Homo sapiens: one gene and its partners. The protein of the gene in region 5 interacts with the protein of the main gene of each other region in a pairwise test. Each region holds a gene or a part of one and is shown on either strand. Other genes may lie near its edges.

Region 1 (3,500 bases), on a different chromosome or scaffold from region 5:
TTAATTCTTCGTTTCTTTTTACTCTCTAAATCTAATGGGTTATCATATTATGTTATCTCTATCTCTCTGTCCTTTCCTGTTCATTCCTGCTGTGCTTTCACAGAGAGAATTAGTAATAGTTACTTACGGGTCTGTGCTTACATTAAGGGAGCTACCAAGATTCTTGTGTGGAATCCTGAGTGTTGTAGTTCAGTTTCAGATCATTTTTGCTGTTTAGTTTCTTCTTAGTCTTTCTCATCAGTTCATCCCTTTTCTTGCTTCGGAATAAGTGACCTTCCTTTGCTCTCTTATGTCCTCAGTACCCCACATACATCCCCCATTTCTTCTGTCTGGCACAGATATTGAATCTCTAAGCCAGCATTACTTTAGCATACCTCTGCCTTTTTTCTTCTCTTTCTCTTTCTTTTACAAATTCAGAGTAGGTGAAGGATCTTATGACCTTGTCCTTTTCTTGTGTGACCACCTTCACTTAGCTCATGAAAGATACTGTCTCAATACCATAGTCTACCGTGCCATTATAGTTGTTTCTTAAACCTAGCTCTGATTGCATTCAAGCCTTGCTTTAGACCTTTTCATGGTTCCCTATTTAACAGTCTCATCTGAGACATGTTAGCATAGGACCAAGGTTCTTTATCATCTGGCCACCCGCCACCTTTCCAGCCTCATCTCTTGTCATATATCCTATTTTCTGAAATTGAAATATTTATAGATCATTTCATTTAGCTAAGATGTACTGAGCACCTGTTATGAGCTAGGCACTGTTCTAAGCATTGGAAACATAGCTGAAGAACAGACCCAGCTTATATTCTAATGCCTTGAACATATCATGCACTTTTGTGTCCCCTTTCCTCATCCATTTCCCTCTTCAGAATACTACCATTTCTCTTCCCTGGACCGCAAAATCCTACACAGCCTGCACAGTTCAGTGCATAGGTCACCACCTATTGTAGAACCACCTGCCCTTCCTCACCTCCAGCAAAATTAGTTGATTTATGTTCAGGATTTACAAAGCACCATTCTTGCCATTACTCTAGAACTTGTCGCACTTTATGGTCTTGTTTATATCAGATCTTCCCTGCCAAATCATCCACCATTTGAGGGCCAGGACTATGTCTCATTTTAGTCCCGGTACAGAACGGGTGTTTGGTCCATGGTCATTGAATTGAATTGTCTTTTGCTTCGGTCATGTTTCTAGGGCCTACATTCACTATTAGACTAGGCCTTCCTGGCTTCATGCTTAGATGATAGCAGCATTCTGTTGACTCGTATCTCCTGTTTCTTTTTCTCGTATACTTACTCAACAAATATTTGAGTTTCTTCTGTGTGCCAGACACTGTGTTAGGCACTGGGAATAGAAAGATTAATAAGAAACTCCCTCACTATAAAGAACTCACAGCCTAGTGAGAAAGTTTGACAAAGAAATAACCCGTTGCAGTGTAGATGTATAAAAAGTGCTGTGGCAAACATCGTTAGAAGATCTGTGGGAGGTGCACCTTGGATAGGTCACAGAAAGCTTCCCAGAAGTGATGTCCAAGTGGAGCCTGAAAAGGCGAGCATTGTAATTGACTAGGGCTTCTGTCTGGAGAATGAGGTGGTCGGAGATGGATGTGGGAAAGAAAGAGGTGAGTGAAGGATTTTTCAGCCATCCTAAGGCAATGGGGAGTTAGTTGGCAGGTTCTAAAGAGAGTGACACATCAGGTTTGTAATTGAGAGAATTTTCTCTCTGCAAAAAAGAAAGGGGATTGATAGGGAAAGGAATAACACGTGCATGGCTGCATGTTCTGAATGGCTGTCATAGTAACCAGACCAGAAACAATGGTGCTTGGACTAAAGTATTAACGATGTCAAGGAAAAGTAGGTGCACGGTTCTTTTGTTTTTTAAAAAAAAATAAGGATGTAAAATGTATGTCTGTGGCTTGTGGTCACAGGGTTGGGTGGGGGTCTGGTAGTGAAGGTGCCAGGTCTAGGAAAATACAGGTTTCTGACTTGGGCAGTGGTGTAGACAGTATTACTGTTCACCAGGAATACAGGAGTAGGAACTAGATTGGGTTTGGGGACCCATTTCCAGTGGGTTTAAGTTCTACTTAAAACATACTCAACTTTCTTGAGTACTTTCAAAATGTACTTTCTTGAAGACATTTTAAGTGGAACTTAAACCAACTGGAAGTGGGGCTCAAATCAGTAGTGAGATCTAACTAGAAACATAGATCCTAAAGTAATTGGCAAAAAGATAGAGAGGGAAGCCTTGGGAGTGGATGCAGTTTCCTGTTCATGAACTCAGCCAATATTTACTGGCCATCTACCATGTCCTGCACTAGGAATTGGGAATCTGAGCAATGACTGATGTGAGGGTACGGTCCCTGATACTACAGAGTTTATCGTTCAGTGAGGGTAGAAATACCTTAAATACAGTTGGACAAAGTACTTATTGTAGTTGACGTAAGTGTTGATGTGACAGAAAGATCTCACTTATCCTGGAGAGACTGGGCAGGTATCCCTGAGGAACTGATGTTTCAACTTAGTACTAAAGGAAGAAAGGGATATGTGGGAGGGATTTCGAGGCAGAAGACAGCCTGACTTCAAGGAGTAGAAAGAGGGCCTTCAAGGAATAGAGGGTGTGAGTGGAACAGAGCAAGTAAGAGGGAGCATGTGAGGCTGGCGGGGTGGGCAGGCCCCAGAGTGTGCGGCTCCTCATAGGCCGAGGAAAGGATTTTGGACTTCCTCTTAAGGGCGTAGAGAACCATTTAGTAGTTTTAAGCAGGGGAGCAGCATGCTGAGATGTATGTGTTGAAAACATGACTCTGGCTGTTGTGCCCTGAATGGGTTGAGGGTGGCAAGAGGCGATTGCAGTAGCCCAAGCAAAGCAAATGTGAGCAGAAAACAAGGATTGAGGATGAGCCCTGAGGAGTAGGTGGGGACACTCATAGGAAGGACTGTCAGAGTCTGAGACACACTGGCAAGAGAGGTAGTCAGAAAATGGGAAGAGTTGGCCGGGCGCAGTGGCTCACACCTGTAATCCCAGCACTTTGGGAGGCCGAGGCGGGCAGATCATGAGGTCAGGAGATTGAGACCATCCTGGCCAACATGGTGAAACCCCGTCTCTACTAAAAATATAAAAATTAGCTTGGCATGGTGGTGCGCTTGCCTATAATCCCAGCTGCTTGGGAAGCTGAGGCACGAGAATCTCTTGAACCCAGGAGGCGGAGGTTGCAGTGAGCCGAGTTTGCACTACTGCACTCCAACCTGGTGACAGAGCGAGACTCGGTCTCAAAAAAAAAAAGAAAGAAAATGGGAAGAGTAAATCATGGGAACCAGAGAAAAGATGATGTCAGCAGGAGAGTATTAAACAGTAGGTCAGAGAACTGGAAAGAATCCACTGTATTTAGTAATGGAGGGTCACTGATGCCCTTAGAGCACCTCTGAGAAGAGCCAAAGGAATGAATTAAAGAATGAACCAGGCCGGGTGCAGTGGCTCACGCCTGTAATCCCAGCACTTTGGG
Region 2 (3,500 bases), on a different chromosome or scaffold from region 5:
CTCAACAACACTGGGAGAGTTACACAGGCCTAAATTAGGAGAAACCTGGGAGGGGAGGTTAGAAGGGAAAGGAATGGCCTAAGTGAATATGGTTTCCAGGGATAGAATGCTTATCTTCCCACTCTTTTAGGACTGACATTCTTGCAAACAGCAAAAATCTCCATGTAATTGAGAGTGTGATATACAGATGATTTGGAGAAGAGTAGCATTCTAAGAATTCACAAGGTCTACAAAGGGAAGAGGTTCTGTAAAATACAAGGGATCCCATATAAGCTTCTAGACAGCTGCTGGGAGAGTAAATGTAAAAACATAGGGAGGCGACAAAACACTGCTGGGAAAGATGGTGTGGGGAGATGAATACAGGGAAGGGAGAGGGAAAGAAATGGTTTGCCGAAATTAATCTAGGCAGCAAACAAAGCAGTACCAGATATGACATACTACCCTACTGGGGCACCGACATTCAATGTGGAATTCAGTGAGGTGGTACCCATACCAATTCTGGTTGCATTGGGATGTGTCACTGACCAACAATCTTAAGCTACTTTTTTTTTTCTTTCTTTCTTTCTTTTTTTTTTTTTTTTTTTTTTTTTTTGAGACGGAGTCTCACTGTGTCGCCAGACTGGGGTGCCGTGGCATGATATCGGCTCAAGGCAACATCCGACTCCCGCGTTTAAGCGATTCTCCTTCCTTAGCCTCCAGAGTATCTGGGACTACAGGCAGGCACTACCACGCCCCGCTAAGTTTTGTATTTTTAGTAGAGACACGGTTTCACCATGTTGGGCAGGATGGTCTCGATCTCTTGACCTCGTGATCTGCCCGCCTCAGCCTCCCAAAGTGCTGGGATTACAGTCGTGAGCCACCGCGCCCGGCTCTTAAGCTACTTTTCATTCAGCTTCCTCCCTTATGAAATAGTGAACCATACATGTCAAATAGCCTACAGTAAAGTCCTCTCTGAGCTTGTAAACACTGTTTAAATGTCGTAATAATAACAATTAATACCTTTCACAATCCTTCTTTGAATTCAGTCTCCACACTGGCAACCCAACTCCCAGATCCCTTTACCCTCCAAACCAGAGTTGAATCTGCACTTGTGGGATCACTCATTCAGGGGCCTCCGAGGGATCCCCTGGGCTGGGACTGGGCCTTCCCAGATGCCCCAGGTGCAGACAAGGCACTCAAGGAGCTCACAGTAGGGAGGGGCCAACAATCAAAGTGATTCCTAAGCCATGCAAGTGGCCCCAGCAACACAGCAGAGACCAGATGGTCCTTCCTGTTGAGAGAGTGGGTGTCTCATTGGAAGCACCAGCAGGCCCTATGGGGTGAAGCCCTAGTGAGCAACATCTGAACTTCATAGACAAATGCAAATGTGAATGAGCTTTAAATGGCTTGGAGCTCTGGATTAGACTACCACTGCCACTGCGCCCCAGGAAAATTCTTTAACATCTCTGTACCACGATAGCCTCATTTTATTATTATGTTGCTGATAACTATGATCTAAAACATGAACTATAATTCTTTACTTCCATTTCATGGACCAGGAATCTGGAGCTCAGAGAACTTAGAAGATTTGTGTCAAGTCACATGGCTTTCATATGGATGAAAACTGAAGTGTGTGACTCATTATTATTTGGAGATAATAGAAACAATGTCTTCTTAAGGATTAAATAAATTAATCCATGTGAACTGCTTGAAATAGTATCTGGCATCACTATGAAAACAAAAGAAGTATTAACAATCGCAACTGTTGGTACTATCAAGCCGTCGGTGCGACATCAGGTGTTGTGATAGACATGGGGAGAAGAAGGCAGTGAGGGCATTTTTGATATTCTCCCACTCTTACCAGTGTTCGCATCCGTGGAGGGACAAAGGTTCTCTGGTCCTTTAGATCTGAGAGACACTCACCTTCGGGGAGATTCCCTGGAGCCTGCCGAAAGTCATCTGAGGACGTTCAACTGAAAGAGAATACATCAGAATTTTTCTTTGTTGGTAAAGGTTTCCAAACTCTAGAGAGACTTCTGTCGCATCAGGGTATTCTGCAGCAGAGGGTTATGAGTCCACTCATTGTTGAGGAGTTATTTCAGATTTGCTTCTGAATTATGTTTAGTCATGGTTGGTGCATTTATCTGTGGCATCAATTCAGAATTTTCCATCTCATGGTTTATCACATGGGGACTACACCCCATCACAGTCTCATCTTATTCCATTACATATCTTTTACTTTTTCCCAAATAATTAAATTGATTGGTTAGGAATCTGAACTGTATCCACTCAAGATGTGCAACAACTGAAAATCATTGTACACTTCAAATGGGTGAATCTTATGGTATGTGAATTAAGCTGTTAAATGTGTGATGAACCATGGATGATTTGGTCCAGTGGCTCTGAAATATTTTCAGTATAAAGACACTCCTTTACTGTCAAAACTTGGCAGATACTCAAGCACTGGCTTTTCAGGTCTCTTATAGTGATTGCGGGAGATTGTAGAATCTGGCCTGTTTAGTTGGCGAGTAATAGGTCTATTGGAGACGGTTTGGACATTCTGACCTTGTCTTATAATTATGTTGTCAGAGTAGAAGAGCAAGTAAATACATATGTCCCCTTTATATTCCTGAAATGTACAAAGCTCTCTACCCAAGAACCTATCTTTTTTTCACCCTATGTTATCTCTGCTCTCTGACAAGTGGGAAAGCTCTCTGTGTGTTGGATAAGGGATCACTCCTTCAAACTCTCTTCCAAGCTCATTACGGAGAATCAGGGTTCTTTGGGAATGAGAAGACTATTTGGTTTTGATAAACCAATACAGAGAAACAGCGATCTTTATTACATAATGTGTTCATCACCCTCACTCCTAAGATACCTATCCAATACCTACATGCTGTTAATGAAACAAACTCTGGAAGTTTTTGGCGGATCTACAGTTTTAACACTTTCTTTCTTTCTTTCTTTTTTTTTTTTCACTTGTAGCATTTTTTTAGCAGTCCTTTGATTCATTAACGGTGCTTAGGAAGAACAACATGTCGTTTAAAAAAGAAATATTTCAAACACACAGAAAAGTATGGGGAATAATATTGAGTCCAGTCGGATCTCAACATTACCCCACAGCTATGTTAGGTCTGATTTATTTATTCAGAATATTAGAAAAACTGCAAATAGGCCGGGCGTGGTAGCTCACAGTTGTAATCCCAGCACTTTGGAAGGCTGAGGCGGGTGGATCACCTGAGGTCAGGAAGTTTGAGACCAGCCTGGCCAACATGGTGAAACCCCGTCTCTACCATAAATTAAAAAATGAGCTGGGTGTGGGGGCACGTGCCTGTAACCCCAGCTACTCGGGAGGCTGAGGCAGGAGAATCACTTGAACCCAGGAGGTGAAAGTTGGAGTGAGCTGAGATTGCCTTATTGCACTCTACCCTGGCCGAGAAGAGTGAAACTCCATCTCAAAAACAAAAACAAACAAAACACACTATCAACAAGTCACAGCTGAAGCTGTCTGTGCCGCACTC
Region 3 (2,886 bases), on a different chromosome or scaffold from region 5:
ATAAATCATCCCATTCCTGCTCTCAGGAGAGAATCGCAGATCCATTTTTGGAGAAACACATAGACGTCATTCTGTAAAGAACTGTCAAGGGAGAATGGCTTTAAAGCAGACTACCATGTAGCACCTTTCCCTTAAATTCTCCAGCCAGAGCTTCCATCAGCGTTTTTCACATTGACTTAGAACAGGCTGCTTTCCATTTTTATGTTCAATGTAAAACAGGTATCATTGCCTTTGCTATTGTAACTAGGTTCTTTCTGTTGCATAGAGAGGATGTCACAAAGGGTGCTAGGAGAATAGGGTGGCCAGTGAGAAAAGCGGCTGAGGATGAGACTTCAGTGGGTATCCTGGAGACTCCAGGCTTAGAGGTGCAGACTCAAGTGTCAGACACCCAGGGCTGCCTGGTCCACACCACAGCGCCCTGGAGAGTTTTCAACCTGCCTCATCCCCAAAAGACAGTCCCCCTCCCCACCTTCATCCCCTGTACAGTGTCCAGCCACCTCCTCACCACATCTCCCAGGCTTGGGACCCAGGGACTTGCATTGATCTCTCTGCCCTTCAGAGGCTGCCAGCCTCCCTTTGTGTGTAGCCTATGAAATGCAGATTGTGTAGGTATTTCTGTGTGACCTTGGAGCCTACGTAACTGCATTTTTAAAAAATTACTGATTCGTGTATCTGCAATCCCAAAGCATGGCCCTGCTCAACTTTAAGGGATGTACTTGAACTGTGGCTTTTTCCTCCCTTGAAGGGCACTGTGTTGGCACTCACTGAAAATAACTTCGATGACACCATTGCAGAAGGAATAACCTTCATCAAGTTTTATGCTCCATGGTAAGTGGCTGTTTAATTAGAAACTACTTTGTCCATGTGTACTAAGTCACATCATGTTTTTCAGCTCATCTGCCACCCCTCCAGACTCAATGTTGGGCACATGTTACATTTATATGTAGGTCATGTTGTAGGAAATAAGGAACCGTTATCATGCTCCTATATTCAAATATTTTAAACTTCAATGGCCTTAATTATATATGGAGAATGAGGCTACAGTTATATCAACTTTGATTATATATGGAGAATGAGGCTAAAGTTATATCAACTTTGGAGAAAACATAAAAATGGAGGCAAATTATGATGGCCATATTCAGTTTTGTGGTATCTGCACTTTTCCAAATAGATGGCTTTTCTTTTTGGCTAAACAATGAGTGTCATGATGTAGCTTTGCTCCTCGGTTCTTTTAAGTACTCGGATTTCTTTTGTAGAGAAATCCAGTAGAGTCTGTTAGAGCCATTCAGTATGCTACGCAGTTTCCTGAACCTGCATGCCACGTGGTCTTGGAGACCAGAGCAGAAATGGATTGCAGGTAGTGTGAGATCCAGACAACCTTGGTTCTAAGACTTACCGTGAATGACTGTATAGTAAACTTGGATGTCCTTTAATTCCTTTGAACCCCAGTTCCCTCAGCTGAAAAATGGGAGTAACTTTTTGTCTTCACAAATAAAACAATCCATTTGGAAAAGCAGAGTGTTAGGACAACAGTAGATTGTTTATCTAAACATGATAAAGGCGTCACTTTTCTTGTTTGTTACACTCCACATGTTCCTGAGAAACTAACCATAGGGGTAAAAAGTTAATAAGCACAGGACTTGAACGAACCATAGCAATGCCTTTCAAATCATTTGCAACATTTAAAAACCTAAAGCTCCACAGATCAAGTATCAAAAAGGAGGATCCCCTTTGGCTGAAGGGGAGCCATCCATACGGCAGGAGGGGGTCAGAAGAGACAAGGGAACAGAGTCGGGTAGAAGGGAGGGTTTGAACCAAACTTAATCATGGCCTTGATGCTCACCCCACATCGCTGAAGTACCAAGGAGGCCTTAAAATGGTTTTGAAATTGTGAGACCATAAGCAATCAAATCTAAAATGTCTTTGGCATTCAAGTGACCTTTTAGAAATTGTGTGGCATCTGCCCTGTTCCCTGTTCCTCTGCTCCTGTGCTTTCATAAACCAGTTAGCACAGTTCACCATGGCATGGAAATGGTCTCAGAATCTCAACTTGTTTTGAGACTGGCTTGCTTCTGTCACATTATCTGAAAGTCTACCTTGGATCAACTTTTGGGTTCTTCATTTGGGATAGGAGGAGGAAGAGTTAATGTGCACCCAGTGGGAGAATTTGGTATTTTACAAATTTCTAGGCAATTGTTGACTGTCCCATACAGAAGAAACAGAGCTTGTCTTGGCAGCAGAGTGTAGGTGAATGATCTCGACCCAGGATTTCAACGAAGCTGCCATTTTTCTCGTCTTAGGTGTGGTCATTGTAAGACTCTGGCTCCTACTTGGGAGGAACTCTCTAAAAAGGAATTCCCTGGTCTGGCGGGGGTCAAGATCGCCGAAGTAGACTGCACTGCTGAACGGAATATCTGCAGCAAGTATTCGGTGGGTACTTGGATGGATGCTTATGGGAGCTCTCAGTATGGGGGCAGATCCCAAGGGAACTGTGCCTCAACCACGATAACTCACTCTGCTCTCATCTTCTCAACAATGTGGTTTTTATGTCCCTTTGAGTTGTTTGTTTGGAGAAGCAAAAGAGATCCTCTCTCAAAGGGAAGGCATTCTTCTTCGCCCGCTTTGTAGTTAGTATCCATGTTTCAGTGCAGGTTTTCAGGCCTTGCTGTCTGAGTAACAAGGCCGTGAAGTAACAGACCCCACGCCATAGACTGTGGGGCTTCCCACACCGCGACTCTTGATGATTGACCAGTGGTCTGTAGCCTTTGCCATAAATACCCGAGTCGCTCATTTTTCACACATAAGCCAGCATTATAAAATGCAGTGGCTGAATCTAAGAATCATTTCAACATAACCTCCTTTCTGAAAGGGCCATGCCAGCAAGTC
Region 4 (3,500 bases), on a different chromosome or scaffold from region 5:
TCTTGATGTGACTAGCTTCAATGGAATCGGCTCCTTCCATCCCAGCATGAAGCAATCCTGTATAACTTGCACACCCTCCCATTCTAAGGCCTCTCCTCTCATACCCTTGCCCAGTATCCTGTGAGATCCTGCCTCTCAGATTCCTCCCTCACCTTTTCAAACCCGGATTGTCTTTCACCCTTCCACAGGGCCTCCTCTTCCTGCCTTCCTCTTATTTGTCCCCTCAGCCATCCTCACCTCACCAATCTTGATAATTGATTACAATATAAATCTCCCTTCCATCTCAGGTCTGCTCCTTTCTTCCTCCACTCTCTTGTGCATCTATCTCCAGGGCCATGCGTATGCCCCTGCTGCTTTCAGCTCTGCTTCCTTCATATGCTGCACTGTTCCACCAAACTTCATCAGTCTCTTCGGTTTATCCAGAGAACTACACTCTTCTCTGGGAACTTCTGATGACTTCTGATAATAGATCACCAAAGGATCTTGGTTTTTTAGAGGGCAGGGAGAGAGCCCTTTGAAGTCCTTCAGAATCAATCTAGCTGTGTCTCCTGGACACCCTCCCACTATCCTATCCTGTTATGAAGCTGCTTGCTGTATATGCCCTCAGAGTAGAATGCTTTGGGTGTCAGCTTCTGCAGGCACTGAATTAGCCCCATTGTTTTCCAAGCCCTGGGAAAACTTGATAATCCCCAACCACTGAAGTCTGAAGAGTCAGTAGCAAAATGTGACATCAAAGATCCACATCCAAAAGTCTATTCTGTGGGTCACCAAATTCCCAGGTCTCTTATAATGTACTTATTGGCTGTGCAGCAATAAATACAGCAGAAACTAAAACTAGAGTTGAGGAAAGGGTATACCCTGGGTTCTACAACTGCTGTGGGTGGATTTTAAAAAGGAGTTCTTGCCTTAGATTTGTTTACTTAGGGCACAGAACTTATTCTGCCTTGTATTTGAGTTATTTGTGTACTTTTCTCAACCCCACTCTGTGAGCTCTGTGAGAACAGAGACTAGGTTTTCTTTTTTCTTTTCTTTTCGAGATGGAGTCTTACTCTGTCACCCAGGCTGGAGTGCAGTGGTGCAGTCTTGGCTCACTGCAACCTCCTCCTCCTGAGTTCAAGTGATTCTCACACCTCAGCCTCCCAAGTAGCTGGTGTTACAGGCGCCTGCAACCATGCCCAGCTAATTTTTGTATTTTTAGTAGAGACAGGGTTTCACCATGTTGGCCAGACTGATCTCTAACTCCTGACCTCAGGTGATCCACTCGCCTCAGCCTCCCAAAGTGCTAGGATTACAGGCATGAGCCACTGCACCTGGCTGGTTTTCTTTATCTTCTGTCTTCATCTCTTCCCTCACATTTAGCAGGTAGTCAGTACTTACCTGTTGGATTAAATTAACTCACTCAGAAATTCTGCATCAGGTGTACAAAAGTAAAAGCAGTTCATGTCTACATTCATTTTGTGGACACAACACCCCTCCCCAAAGTTCTCCAAACATGATAATGGGCATGTCCCTTGATTTAAACGTCGGTAATTTAGACACTTCCTTTTTTAGTCATTGCTCGGGTGGGGGAATGGGTGTAAGTGCTTTTCTTTTTCTACTGTATTTCTGGTAAGATAGGTTGTTTGACGCAGTTGCTCAAATACAGTGGTAACAGCATCAGGGGCTGTCTTATATAAATCTGTTCTCAAGAAAACAGCTAGTTTGAAATATTTAGTGTGGGTTGCAGAGACGATTAAGGAACAGAGGAAACCAAGGAGGCAAAATGTTGGTAATTTTTGAAGTTGGATAATGGGTTCAAGAGGTTCATTATACCATTCTTTCCATTTTTGTGTATGTTGGAAATCCATTATAAAAAGATTAAAGGCAGGGGCAGCTAGGTGAACAAGTGCAAATTTAGCACTGTTCCTTGGAAAACACCTCAGAGCAAATGAGCTACTGTTTCTGAATCAGTACTGTTATCTAGGTTAAGTAGTATATTTAGTCCTAACCTTTCTCTGACCTCTTCTGTTTGTGAGATATCAGGATGCTAAATTTAAAAATTAGCACCCTGCAGAATTCTGTACCTAGTGGCCTGGGAATTGTAACATCCTGGCATCAAGCACCTGTTGCACTGCTTCTCAGCTTAGGTATGGTTTCTGGTGGAATAGGGCTGGACTGGACCTGAGAAGAGGGTGAGGCAGTAAGGAGGAAAGAGGGACTGAGGGCTGGAGAGAGACCAGAGCTCTACTAGGGTCTTCCCCTTCTTGCCTAAAGGTTTCAAGTTACTGGGAGATCCTAAAGGTATATATATTCATTCATTCACTGATTCATTCATCCCACAAATATTTGGTGAATATCTGCTGTGTGCCAGGTACTTTTCTAGGTACTGGGAATAGAGCAGTGAGCTCACTGTTTGAGGAATGGACAGGGTAGAGACAGACAATAAACAAATAAGTAAAATATATATTGAGAAAATTAAGCAGAGAAGGGAGATAGAAAGTGCCAGGAGTAGGCCAGGTGCAGTGGCACACACCTGTAATCCCAGCACTTTGGGAGGCTGGGTTGGGTAGATAACATGAGGCCAGGAGTTTGAGACCAGCCTGGCCAACATGGCGAAACCCCAGCTCTACTAAAAATACAAAAATTAGCCAGGCGTGGTGGCAGGCACCTGTAATCCCAGCTACTCGGGAGGCTGAGGCACGAGAATCACTTCAACCCAGGAGGCAGAGGTTGCAGTGAGCTGAGATCACGCTGCTGCACTCCAGCCTGGGCGACAGAGCGAGACTCTGTCTCAAAAAAAAAAAAAAAAGAAGAAGAAGAAGAAGAAAATGCCAGGATTCTGGGTGTTAAAATTTTAAATAGGGTAGTTGAAGAGGTTCCCACTAAAAAGGTAACATTTGAGCAAAGACCTGAAGGAAGTTAGGGGGTAAGTCAAGCATACATCTAGGGGAAATTTATTCCAGTCAGGAAGAACAGCAAACACAAAGGCCCTGAGGCAGGAATGTGCCCTATATATTCAAGAAACATGAGGAAGCCAGCCAATACGGCTGCAGTATATTAGTGAGAGAAGAAATGGCAGATGTTGCGGTGGGGGTGAATTGGGGGCAGATCACACAGGCCACTGGCTTGTAGTGTGAGTTGTGAGTGAGATGGTAGCCATTAGAGAATTCTAGGCAGATAAATAACATGGCCTGACATATTGAAAAGGTCATTGTGGCTGCTGTGTTGAGAATAAGCTATAACGGGGCAAAAATGGAAGGAGAGAAACTGGTTAGGAGGCTACTACAATAGTCTAAACAAGAGAAGTTGGTGGCTTGAACCCAAGGTGAAGCAATGGAAAGGTGAGAAGTGGTTGGCTTCTGGATGTATTTGGAAAGGAGCCAACAGGATTTGCTGATGGACTGGATGTGATATATAAAAGAAATAGCAGTTGAGGGTGGCTACAATTTTTTTTTTTTTCAAGACATCTCGCTCTGTCGCCCACGGTGGAGTGCAGTGGCGTGATCTCAGCTCACTGCAAC
Region 5 (3,500 bases):
CTTATAATGCTGAAGAACTTTGTAATTTAGCTTTTATGAGATACGTAATGTTAATGTAATATGTAATTCTCATTGTGTCACCAGAGATTTTTTTAAATCAAATACTCATTGAGCATCTACTCTGCAAGTCACAGTAGGGGTTAAAGGAAACTGTTCTTAAGGAATATGGAAGGTAGGGCCTTATAATCATTCCCATATCTTTTATAAGTTCTTCAAAATGTAGAACGCACTTTACATATTTTAATGAATGTCAACTAAGACAAAGTGCTAGGATAGTTGAGTAGTGGAGAGGAAGGACAGATGGATAGTGGGTAGAGATATTTGTGCATTGAGGTAATGAGGGAAAGCTTTGAAGATATTCCAAGGGAGTACGCTTTTTCACACTAAACTTTTTTCCGATATAATTCTGATTAAGATGCAGTTCATCAAAGGATAGTAAATTGGTTACTACGCATTTGATATCCTAAAAACAAAATATCTGAGCTTTTGTAAACTGCTTTCTAGCTTGTTTCTCCTTTTTTATGCTACTATCCTTAGTTGTACCAGATGGTACTCTTTTTAAAAATTTTATGCTTTTATAATACTGAGTACCTCTTTTTTGGTATTTATGAACTTTGATATTTGTGTTGTATTTGTAATTGTTTCTAGGGCCCTAGAAACATGTTTATTGGCAAGGTGGTCTCTTCCTCTAGTCTACAAGTGCTTCGAGAGTAGGGCTTACCTCATTTTATAGCTTTAACATCGGGCCAGGTAAGTACTGTGCTGTGTTTGGTGATGGATGATCAGTTGAAGAATGTTAGGATGTTTTGAAGCTGCTCTAGCAGTAGAAATTGAAATGAACATTGAGAAATGAAGGGACAAAGGAAGGAAGAGGAAGATATTTATACAACTGGGAGCATTAACTTGCTATCTCTATTTTCCCTTCTGCTTTCCTTTTCAACTTACCACTAAATGAGGTAGTTTTATAAGCTTACATCGTACATAGTCATGGTTAGAGAAAAGTGGAAAAAGTAATCTGATTTATCTTAGAATATAGGGCAACACGAAATTAGATAACTATAGCCGTAAACTGATATTACTTAGAGGAAAAAGAATGAAAATTATTCAAATAGTTCAAGTTCATGAAAGATTTGATGCTTGTCGTTAACAGTAGGATTGTAAATATAATCATAATGGCAGTTGATGAAATTCCTCTGAGGGGTATGGATACATACACAAATAAGTATATGAATTGACAGCTTAGTATGAAGAAACTATTCAAGAATGTGAGAATGCCCTATGAGCATAAAGGAGCATATAGATGATAGCTTAGAACCACTTAAATAAGTGAATTGTAATTTGATATGCCCAGATAAAAGTAATAGTATTGAATATTTGTTTGGGAGCATCTGGTTGTCAGATAAGGATAAAGTATAAAAGAAAAACCAAAATAAGTTTGAAAAAACAATAAGCAAATTTGTATCAATTCCCTGTGGGGAAAAGAATCATATTTGAACTACATGCCTCATAAAGACTAGTTTTCCCTTTCTTTCCTTTTACCTAAGATAAATAAAGATACCTTCTGATTTGTAAGACAAACCCCTCAGTATGCTTTTGCTATTTCCCCCATTACATTTTTTTCTTTCTTAGATCTTTATAAAATCATACATTTATGTTGTGCTTTACAATGTATACATTTTTACATTGATATGCCATTTGATTTTCTCAAATGTAGGCAGGGGAGATAATATCACTACCATTATAGATGTCAAAACTGAACCTTAGAGAGATTAAATGACTTGCGTCAGTTCACACAGCTTGTCAGTGACAGAATCTGAACTAGAAGGAAGGTTTTCTGAAGTTAGTCTGTTAAAATGCTCAGGTTTTCTCAAACTTCAATTTCTCCAGTTTTGATACTCTCGCAAAGTATTTACTGTTTCATTTCTATCTTTTTCAGCAAAAATGTAGCCTGAATAACTGTCTCCACTCTTTACCGCTTTGCTATTCATTCCTTCTCTAAAGACTCTTGTTTATTTATTTAGTCAGTGCGTATTTCAGCACCTGTTGAATGTTTAGTTGGCATATATTCTTAAGAGAATATGTAAAATGAAGCTTCCATTATTGAGAAAAAGAAATTTGGAAAATGATTTTTTTAAAAAATTATACTTTTAAGTTCTGGGATACATGTGCAGAATGTGCAGGTTTGTTACATAGGTATACACGTGCCATGGTGGTTTGCTGCACCGGTCAACCCATCATCTACCTTAGGTATTTCTCCTAATGCTATCCCTCCCCTAGCCCGCCACTCCCCCACAGGCCCTGGTGTGTGATATTCCCCTCCCTGTGTCCGTGTGTTCTCATTGTTCATCTCCCACTTATGAGTGAGAACATGCGGTGTTCTGTTAATTTAAATAAATATTTAATTACAAATAAATATTTGTAATTAAATATTAGCTCATTGTATTATTACAAATAATTATTTGTAATTAAATATAATATTAGCTCATAAGTTCAGAACATTTTCTGAAAACTGTCAACATAACACACTGCAATAACTAACATCTCTACACATGTCAGGTTGTACATTGAAGTGTTGTGGAATTAGGCCGGGCATGGTGGCTCACACCTGTAGTCCCAGCACTTGGGAGGTTGAGGCAGACAGTTACTTGAGGTCAGGAGTTCGAGACAAGCCTGGTCAACATGGCAAAACCCCATCTCTACTAAAAATACAAAAAATTAGCTGGGTGTGGTGGCAGGCGCCTGTAATCCCAGCTATTCAGGAGACAGATGTTGCAGTGAGCCGAGATTGTGCCACTGCACTCCAGCCTGGGCGACAGAGCGAGACTGCATCTCAAAAAAAAAAAAAAAAAAGTATTGTGGAATTAGTGGGAATTCATTTGTGATCTATTATAATAAAAATGGGAAAATTGTGTAGCCTGATTGACCATTTGAGTAATTTTGCCCTTGGGCTATTAATTACATTTGCATTTATAAACATAGAATGCTTCTTAAAAGATAAATGTGATTTTTTTTGTCATAACTAAAATGCTAGTTTGGGAAGCCAACTTTAAAATTATTATGAAAGCTAATGAAAAAATGATTTTATATATATACTTGTTTTGTTTTTTCCTCCTTTATTATACAGTATTTGAATAAATTTTGAACTTTCCTTTTTATTTTGAGAGCACTATAAATTATGGAGAGTTTCAAATAAGGTAAGTAGACACAATAGTATAATGAACCTAAAAGTTTCCATCATGTAGCCCAGTAACTATCAACAGTGATCAGTCCTCATCCATCCACTTCTCCCACTTCTATATTATTTTGAAACAAATTGCAAGTCCTGTGTAATTTCACCTGTAGGTATTTCAGTATTTCCCAAAGATAAGAGCAGTTAACTGCAGTACTTTTACAAACTTTGTTCTTTATTTATTTTTTCATTTTAATCTACATTTCCTGCTTTTATTATTACAAATTTTCAAAAATTAACACTAATTCCTTGGTATAAAATATCTACACTT
Region 6 (3,500 bases), on a different chromosome or scaffold from region 5:
TGATCTCATCACCCCTAGCCGGAATCTGCTCTGACCCTGCCTCCTCGACAGCTCAGAGGCTTAACTTGTGGAAAGTGTGGCAGAGCTAAACGTAGCCGACTTTTTCCAGTGGGTGCGAAAAATAACCGCCACTAAGGTGTGTCTTCTTGATGCTTGTACCGCTCAGAAATAGACTGAGGTTGTGTTTGTTTTTGCTCAAACTTTCCTAAAGAGGAAACCCGCTCCCCAAAGTTGACCAGATAGATGTATCATCTTTCCGGATGTGAATTATTTCGGCTGTGTGCTATGAGAACTGGGTATGGTGGGAAGTAATTGTTTTTCTGGCTCTCATCAGGTCCTGGTTCCTGGTTGCTTTTCTTTACCCGAGAGGGCCACAAAAGATACCACTCTCCTGAGACTTCCAAGTTCCCCTTCAGCAAGACCCTCATTCCTCTGGGGAGAGAGGGAGAGTTGGCCATGTTATATTCGAAAGAGCCTGGGTATTGGAATTGGCCATATTTAGTGGTGAGAGCCTGTGATACTTATTTAACCTTTCTGGGCCTTGTTTCACTCACTACATTTTTTTTTTTTTTTTTTTTTGAGACGGAGTCTCGCTCTGTCACCGGGCTGGAGTGCAATGGCGTGATCTCAGCTCACTGCAGTCTCCACCTCCCGGGTTCAAGCGATTCTCCTGCCTCAGCCTCCTGAGTAGCTGGGACTACAGGCACCTGTCACCCCGCCCAGCTAATTTTTTGTATTTTTAGTAGAGACAGGGTTTCACCATGTTGGCCAGAATGGTCTCGATCTCTTGACCTTGCGATCCATCCACCTCGGCCTCCCAAAGTGCTGGGATTACAGCTGTGAGCCACCCCGCCCGGCCTTCACTCACTTCTTAAAATGGAGACGGTCAACAGGGTTGGTGCTGAATTAATGAAGTAAGATCCAGAAATCACTAGAGCTGTGATGGGCACATAGTCACCGCAGCGGTGGAGAACTGACCATCTGTCCCTTGTGTTGTTTAGGCCTCATCTCTGCATGGTCCTCATTGGCTCTGAGTTCTAGTGTGTAGTGTCCACAGTGCCACCCTCCATGAGGGTTGTGTTGACTGTGAGGTGGTGCAGAGAATGTCCCTGTCCTTGTGAGCATATGACAGCAAGACACTGGCCCTGGAATCCTCCGTGTCACATGTGGGCTGCTGACAGGAAGAATGTGCTTTTGTTGTTGTTGTTGTTGTTGAGGCAGAGTCTTACTCTGTCGCCCAGGCTGCAGTGCAGTGGCATGATCTTGGCTCACTGCAACCTCTACTTCCCGGGTTCAAGTGATTCTCCTGCCTCAGCCTCCTGAGCAGCTGGGACTACAGATGTGTACCACCATGCCCGACTAATTTTTGTATTTTTAGTAGAGATGGGGTTTCACCATGTTGGTCAGGCTGGCCTGGAACTCCTGGCCTTAAGTGATCCACCTGTCTCGGCCTCCCATAGTGCTGGGATTATAGGTGTGTGCCACCCTGCTGGGCCGAGAATGTGCTTTTGACTGAGGGTGGAAAGTCAGCAGCTGCAGCCCAAGAAGTTAGAGCCAGGGGCAGTGCCTTTGATGGGAAGCTTGGGGGTCTAAAGAAATCAGAAAGGGGAGAAAATAATCCTGCGTGTGCTCAGCCCTCACTCAGATCAACAGCCCCTCGGGTCCCAGCTAGATGTACTTTGTAGAAGGCTTTTTTTCTCCCCCTCACCCTCAAAACTCCAGGATTAATGTGCTATTCCCTTTTTTCTACTGTTCTCTGTCTCCCCCCAACCCATCAGCAGTCTGAGAAATGCTATGGTGGAAAAAAAAAAACAACAGCCCTATAACCAGTACAAACAAAAAGCCAAGACAAAAAAAAAAAAAAAATCAGAAGGGGAGATTTTGAGGCCAGGAAGCCATGGCATTCACTGGAAATATATCAGTGATAAAATAACAGGCTACAGGGTTTATTTTATTTTATTTTTAAGTCAATAGGCCTGAGTGTTGGTAAAGACTAGATACCCAGCAGTCCTTCTTGCATTTCTTCTTGGGGTGGGGGGGCAGAAGGGAATGGAGAGGAAATGAAGGCGGATTGCTGGTAAGTGAGGCAGGAAGGCAGGGAGTTTATTATGGAATGTCATCGGTAAGTTTCCCCATGATTTGATCCCAAGCTGGTGTGGAGTGAAGGGTAAGCTGTTGGCTCAACAGATAGTGAGAATCAAACTTAGTGGAGTTGTAGAGCCTGTTTCCTGCAGCGGACAGCAAGATGTACAAGCCGTCCACTGCAGGAATGACGTGCTGTAAAAGGGATGCAGTGTCAAGTGTAGTCATGGATGGGTGGGAAGACCAGACAAAGGCATCCAATGGGACTGACTTACCTAAACAAACCAGAAGGAAGTCAGAACAGTGGGAAGATCTGATAGATAAGCAGTATTCTGCAGGCAGATGAAGGAGCAAGCTTTGGGCCCCCAAATCTTCACCAGTGCATCCACATTACAGAGGATAATGCCTGAGGGAGGGGAAGATCATCTCAGGATTCTGGAACACTGGGCCCTCCCTTTCTTATTCCAAAAGGCTGGAGCAGTTCTGCATGTAGGCTTCTCTGGAAATGGTCTAGGAACCAGCTCATCCAGGCCAGGAGCACCTGATCATTCTCAGAGTTACGTACATATGCGATAAGATTGCAGGGAACAGTATAGTTCTATAGACTTAAGTGTGAACATAGTCCTCATTTATAGTCCCTAGTCTCCCATGGCTCACGCAGCTTGGTCTTTATGTGTTTCTGAATTTAGTGCTGCAGAGGCACAATGGGGTCTGGTTTCTGGATCTTATACAGACAAGCACTTAGGTCAGCTGCAGTGGATGTCCTGCACAGACACCGTCGCAACTCTTGCCTGGTTCCTTTTTGTTTTTGGAGATGGAGTCTCGCTCTGTCTCCCAGGCTGGAGTGCAGTGGCGCGATCTCAGCTCACTGCAAGCTCTGCCTCCCAGGTTCACGCTATTCTCCTGCCTCAGCCTCCCAAGTAGTTGGGACTACAGGCACCCGCCACCACGCCCGGCTAATTTTTTGTATTTTTAGTAGAGACAGGGTTTCACCGTGTTAGCCAGTATGGTCTCGATCTCCTGAACTCGTGATCCACCTGCCTCGGCCTCCCAAAGTGCTGGGATTACAGGTGTGAGCCACCACGCCCGGCCTATTGCCTGGTTCTTGAAGGGATTCTCAGGAACCACAGGGAATGTCTGAGCCAGCTTTCTGGATCCGTGTGTACAGCCCTTCCCAGAGGCTTTGTGGAGCCAGCTGTACGGTGCATGAGCTTTGTGGCTAAGATATCAGAGTTCTGCCTGGCCCTTGGCCTTGGTCTCTCTCAGATGGTCAGCTGCTCTGTTTTTAGTGGTTGATCATGTAGAAGGCCAACAGGTGTTGACCTTGGTTTAGGCTACTTTTGGGATTTTTGAGGTTTCCTGAGACTCTTGGTTTTCTTTCATCATCCCGTCCAGAACCTCTGATGTCAAACTAAATT
Region 7 (3,500 bases), on a different chromosome or scaffold from region 5:
TGGTGAAACCCCATCTCTACCAAAAATACAAAAATCAGCCGGGCATGGTGGCTGGCACCTCTAATCCCAGCTATTTGGGAGGCTAAGGTGGGAGAATTGCTTGAACCTGGGAGGTGGAGGTTGCAGTGAGCCAAGATCACACCACTGCATTCCAGCCTGGGTGACAGAGCAAGACTCCGTCTCAAAAACCAAAAACAAGAAACAAAAAAGAAGTGCCACAGCTTGGGGTAGGAACTGACCGCATTTTGGGAGGTGGGGTGGTTGGGACCAGCAGTGCTTGACAAGGGACATGCAGGGGCCTTATGTTCAGGGACTGGGATACCCTGAGGGAAGAAGGACTTCCCGGGATGAGCTGGGCAGAATTTGGGGGGCTGTCCTCCCAGCTGACCGCGGTGTCGGTGCCTCCAGGGGTGTGTGGAATGTACCATACATCTCCCAGGCCTATGTGATCCGGGGTGATACCCTGCGGATGGAGCTGCCCCAGAGGGATGTGTTCTCGGGCAGTGACACAGACCCGGACATGGCCTTCTGTAAGAGCTTTCGAGACAAGGTGAGCGCGGGTGCACGGTCTGGCCTGGGGGCAGTCCCCCAGACTCCAGGCATCGCCTGCATCACGGACACCCCCACCCCACTACAGGGCATCTTCCTCCATCTGAGCAATCAGCATGAATTTGGCCGGCTCCTGGCCACTTCCAGATACGACACGGAGCACCTGCACCCCGACCTCTGGCAGATCTTCGACAACCCCGTCGTGAGTGGGGACCCCACGCCCAGAGCACACAGGTTCCCCGCCTTGTGCTAAGGAAGACACCAAACGTGATGGCTGCTGCCAGCGCAGGACACTGAGTGGGAGGGGGCGGTCCCCTGGGGGCTGGGAGCGAGGGGGGCACAGATCTGATGTGCCCCCCACCCTCTCACAGGACTGGAAGGAGCAGTACATCCACGAGAACTACAGCCGGGCCCTGGAAGGGGAAGGAATCGTGGAGCAGGTGAGCCCACGCAGCCTCCCCACCCACCCCCTGCCCTCATGGCCATCGCCTCTTGGGGGCCCCCGCCTGGATTCAAAGTTTTCACACTGAGTTCCCCAGAGATCTGAGGGTTTTCTGTTCAGACAAGATGAAGGCAGAGGCCGAACAGAAAGGACTCTTGCCCCCAAAGCCAGCATTGATCAGACAGCCTCTTCTCCTGTATATTGGGTATACTGGTGTTATGCTTGAAATCACATCTTAAAAGAAGAATGGGGCTGGGCTCAGTGGCTCATGCCTGTAATCCCAGCACTTTGGGAGGCCAAGGTGGGTGGATCGGTTGAGGCCAGAAGTCCAAGACCAGCCTGGGCAACATAGCGAGAATCTGTCTCTACAACAACAACAAAAAAATTAAATAAGAAATGAGGCCAGGAGTGGTGCTCATGCTTGTAATCCCAGTACATTGAGAGGCCGAGGCAGGCAGATCACCTGAGGTCAGGAGTTCGAGACCAGCCTGGCCAACATGGCAAATCCTGTCTCTACCAAAAAAAAAAAAAAAAAAAACACAAAAATTAGTCAGGTGTGATGGCGTGCACCTGTAGTCCCAGCTACTCGGGAGGCTGAGGTGGGAGAATCGCTTGAACCTGGGAGGCAGAGGTTGCAGTGAGCCAAGATCACGCCACTGCACTCCACCTTGGGTGACACAGCGAGACCCTGTCTCAAAAAAAAAAGAAAAGAAAAAATTAGCTTGGCATGGTGGCATGTGCCTGTAGTTCCAGCTACTTGGGAGTCTGAGGCGGGAGGATCGCTTGAGCCCAGAAGGTCGAGGCTGTAGTGAGCTATGATTGTGCCACTGCACTCCAGCCTGGTTGACAGAGCAATACCCTATCTCAAAAAAAAAAAAAAGAGGTATGCACTGTTACGGAAGTTTGGAAACCACTGTCCCAGCACGAGGGGCTCCAGGACCCTCTGCCACCTCTCCTGTGCCAGAAACCGGTCCTCAGCCTTGCCACTCCCTCAGCCCCTACCTGGCGGGTCCCCGGCTGCTCTCACAAAGCCTTCCCTGCTCCTCCCTGCCCCTTCCCATTCTGCCTGCTGCCTGTCCCCTTCCCCGTTCTGCGGCGTCAGCTAGCCCTGTTCTCCCTCGCCCCATCCTCAGCCATGCCCGGACGTGTACTGGTTCCCACTGCTGTCAGAACAAATGTGTGATGAGCTGGTGGCAGAGATGGAGCACTACGGCCAGTGGTCAGGCGGCCGGCATGAGGTAAGGGCCTGGGCGAGGAGGGCAGAGGCCTTCCCAGAGGAGGAGGTGCAGGATCTGGTAAACAAACAATGGAATCAGGAAAATGGGAGCAAAGAGGGGTTCCCAGGGGGGAGGCAGACCCTGGGGTCACAACTGCATTCATTCATGTATTCAAGAAATATTTACTGCTGGGCACAGTGGCTCATGCCTGTAATCCTAGCACTTTGGGAGGCTGAGGCGGGAGGATTGCTCGAGCAGGGGGAGTTTGAGGCCAGCCTGGGCAACATAGCGAGACCCTGTCTCTACAAAAAATTTAAAAATTAGCCGAGTTTGGGCCAGGTGCGGTGGCTCACGCCTGTAATCCCAGCACTTTGGGAGGCCGAGGCAGGTGGATCACCTGGGGTCAGGAGTTCGAGACCAGCCTGACCAACATGGAGAAACCCCATCTCTACTAAAAACACAAAATTAGCCGGGCATGGTGGCGGGCGCCTGTAGTCCCAGCTACTCGGGAGCTGAGGTAGAATTGCTTGAACCCGGGAGGCAGAGGTTGCAGTGAGCCAAGATTGAACTCCAGGCTGGGCAACAAGAGTGAAACTCCATCTCAGAAAAACCAACAAATTAGCCGGGCATGGTGGCATGTCCCAGCTATTCAGGAGGCTGAGGCAGAAGGATCACTTGAGCCCCAGAGTTAGAGGCTGCAGTGAGCTATGATCATGCCGCAGTACTCCAGCCTGGGTGACAGAGCAAGACTCTGTCTCTAAAAAAAGAGAAAAGGAAATCATTCCTGGGCCACTGTCCTAGACTGCACTGCAGGAATGCCTCATGCCGGTCGAGCTCTGCCCTGCTGTGAGCAGCAGCCACCACACAGCTTCTAAGGCTGCGATGAGCAGCCTGGGTGCAATAGAAGCCACGGGGAAGCCTTGACCCAGACTTGGGAGGAGTAGGGAGCTTCACAGGACAGGTGACATCTTAGCTGAGACTTGAAGGGCCGGGAGCAGTGAGTCAGGCCGAGAAGTAGCAAAGAAGACTGTTCTGCACAGAGGAACACAGGTGTGAAGGCTGGAGGACGGGAGGAAGGAGGCTGGACTGCCCTGGGGTGGGGAGCGCCATGGCTGGAGGGGCGGGTGGCTCAGTGCCCGCCGCCCCCAGGATTCAAGGCTGGCTGGAGGCTACGAGAATGTGCCCACCGTGGACATCCACATGAAGCAGGTGGGGTACGAGGACCAGTGGCTGCAGCTGCTGCGGACGTATGTGGGCCCCATGACCGAGAGCCTGTTTCCCGGTTACCACAC

What was found.
Region 1: the proteins of RAB3IP (region 5) and SUV39H2 interact in a two-hybrid assay, tested with the Homo sapiens proteins (one large-scale study listed by BioGRID and IntAct).
Region 2: the proteins of RAB3IP (region 5) and SSX2 interact in binary tests that used the Homo sapiens proteins (3 or more experiments, as listed by UniProt).
Region 3: the proteins of RAB3IP (region 5) and TXNDC5 interact in a two-hybrid assay, tested with the Homo sapiens proteins (one large-scale study listed by BioGRID).
Region 4: the proteins of RAB3IP (region 5) and ZNF76 interact in binary tests that used the Homo sapiens proteins (3 or more experiments, as listed by UniProt).
Region 6: the proteins of RAB3IP (region 5) and ZBTB16 interact in binary tests that used the Homo sapiens proteins (3 or more experiments, as listed by UniProt).
Region 7: the proteins of RAB3IP (region 5) and PLOD3 interact in binary tests that used the Homo sapiens proteins (3 or more experiments, as listed by UniProt).

What each region holds. Positions count from the first base shown.
Region 1 is NC_000010.11:14,885,366-14,888,865, forward strand, and holds part of SUV39H2 (histone-lysine N-methyltransferase SUV39H2), read left to right. Parts: intron 1-3,500. UniProt on the Homo sapiens protein: Histone methyltransferase that specifically trimethylates 'Lys-9' of histone H3 using monomethylated H3 'Lys-9' as substrate.
Region 2 is NC_000023.11:52,700,679-52,704,178, forward strand, and holds part of SSX2 (protein SSX2), read right to left. Parts: intron 1,953-3,500; coding exon 1,903-1,952; intron 1-1,902.
Region 3 is NC_000006.12:7,883,903-7,886,788, reverse strand, and holds part of TXNDC5 (thioredoxin domain-containing protein 5 isoform 1 precursor), read left to right. Parts: intron 1-745; coding exon 746-828; intron 829-2,300; coding exon 2,301-2,430; intron 2,431-2,886. UniProt on the Homo sapiens protein: Protein disulfide isomerase of the endoplasmic reticulum lumen involved in the formation of disulfide bonds in proteins. Can reduce insulin disulfide bonds.
Region 4 is NC_000006.12:35,262,735-35,266,234, forward strand, and holds part of ZNF76 (zinc finger protein 76), read left to right. Parts: intron 1-3,500. UniProt on the Homo sapiens protein: May be involved in transcriptional regulation.
Region 5 is NC_000012.12:69,741,860-69,745,359, forward strand, and holds part of RAB3IP (rab-3A-interacting protein isoform alpha 1), read left to right. Parts: intron 1-3,500. UniProt on the Homo sapiens protein: Guanine nucleotide exchange factor (GEF) which may activate RAB8A and RAB8B. Promotes the exchange of GDP to GTP, converting inactive GDP-bound Rab proteins into their active GTP-bound form.
Region 6 is NC_000011.10:114,066,211-114,069,710, forward strand, and holds part of ZBTB16 (zinc finger and BTB domain-containing protein 16), read left to right. Parts: intron 1-3,500. UniProt on the Homo sapiens protein: Acts as a transcriptional repressor. Transcriptional repression may be mediated through recruitment of histone deacetylases to target promoters. May play a role in myeloid maturation and in the development and/or maintenance of other differentiated tissues.
Region 7 is NC_000007.14:101,207,582-101,211,081, reverse strand, and holds part of PLOD3 (multifunctional procollagen lysine hydroxylase and glycosyltransferase LH3 precursor), read left to right. Parts: intron 1-408; coding exon 409-550; intron 551-637; coding exon 638-751; intron 752-920; coding exon 921-989; intron 990-2,124; coding exon 2,125-2,229; intron 2,230-3,357; coding exon 3,358-3,500. UniProt on the Homo sapiens protein: Multifunctional enzyme that catalyzes a series of essential post-translational modifications on Lys residues in procollagen. Plays a redundant role in catalyzing the formation of hydroxylysine residues in -Xaa-Lys-Gly- sequences in collagens.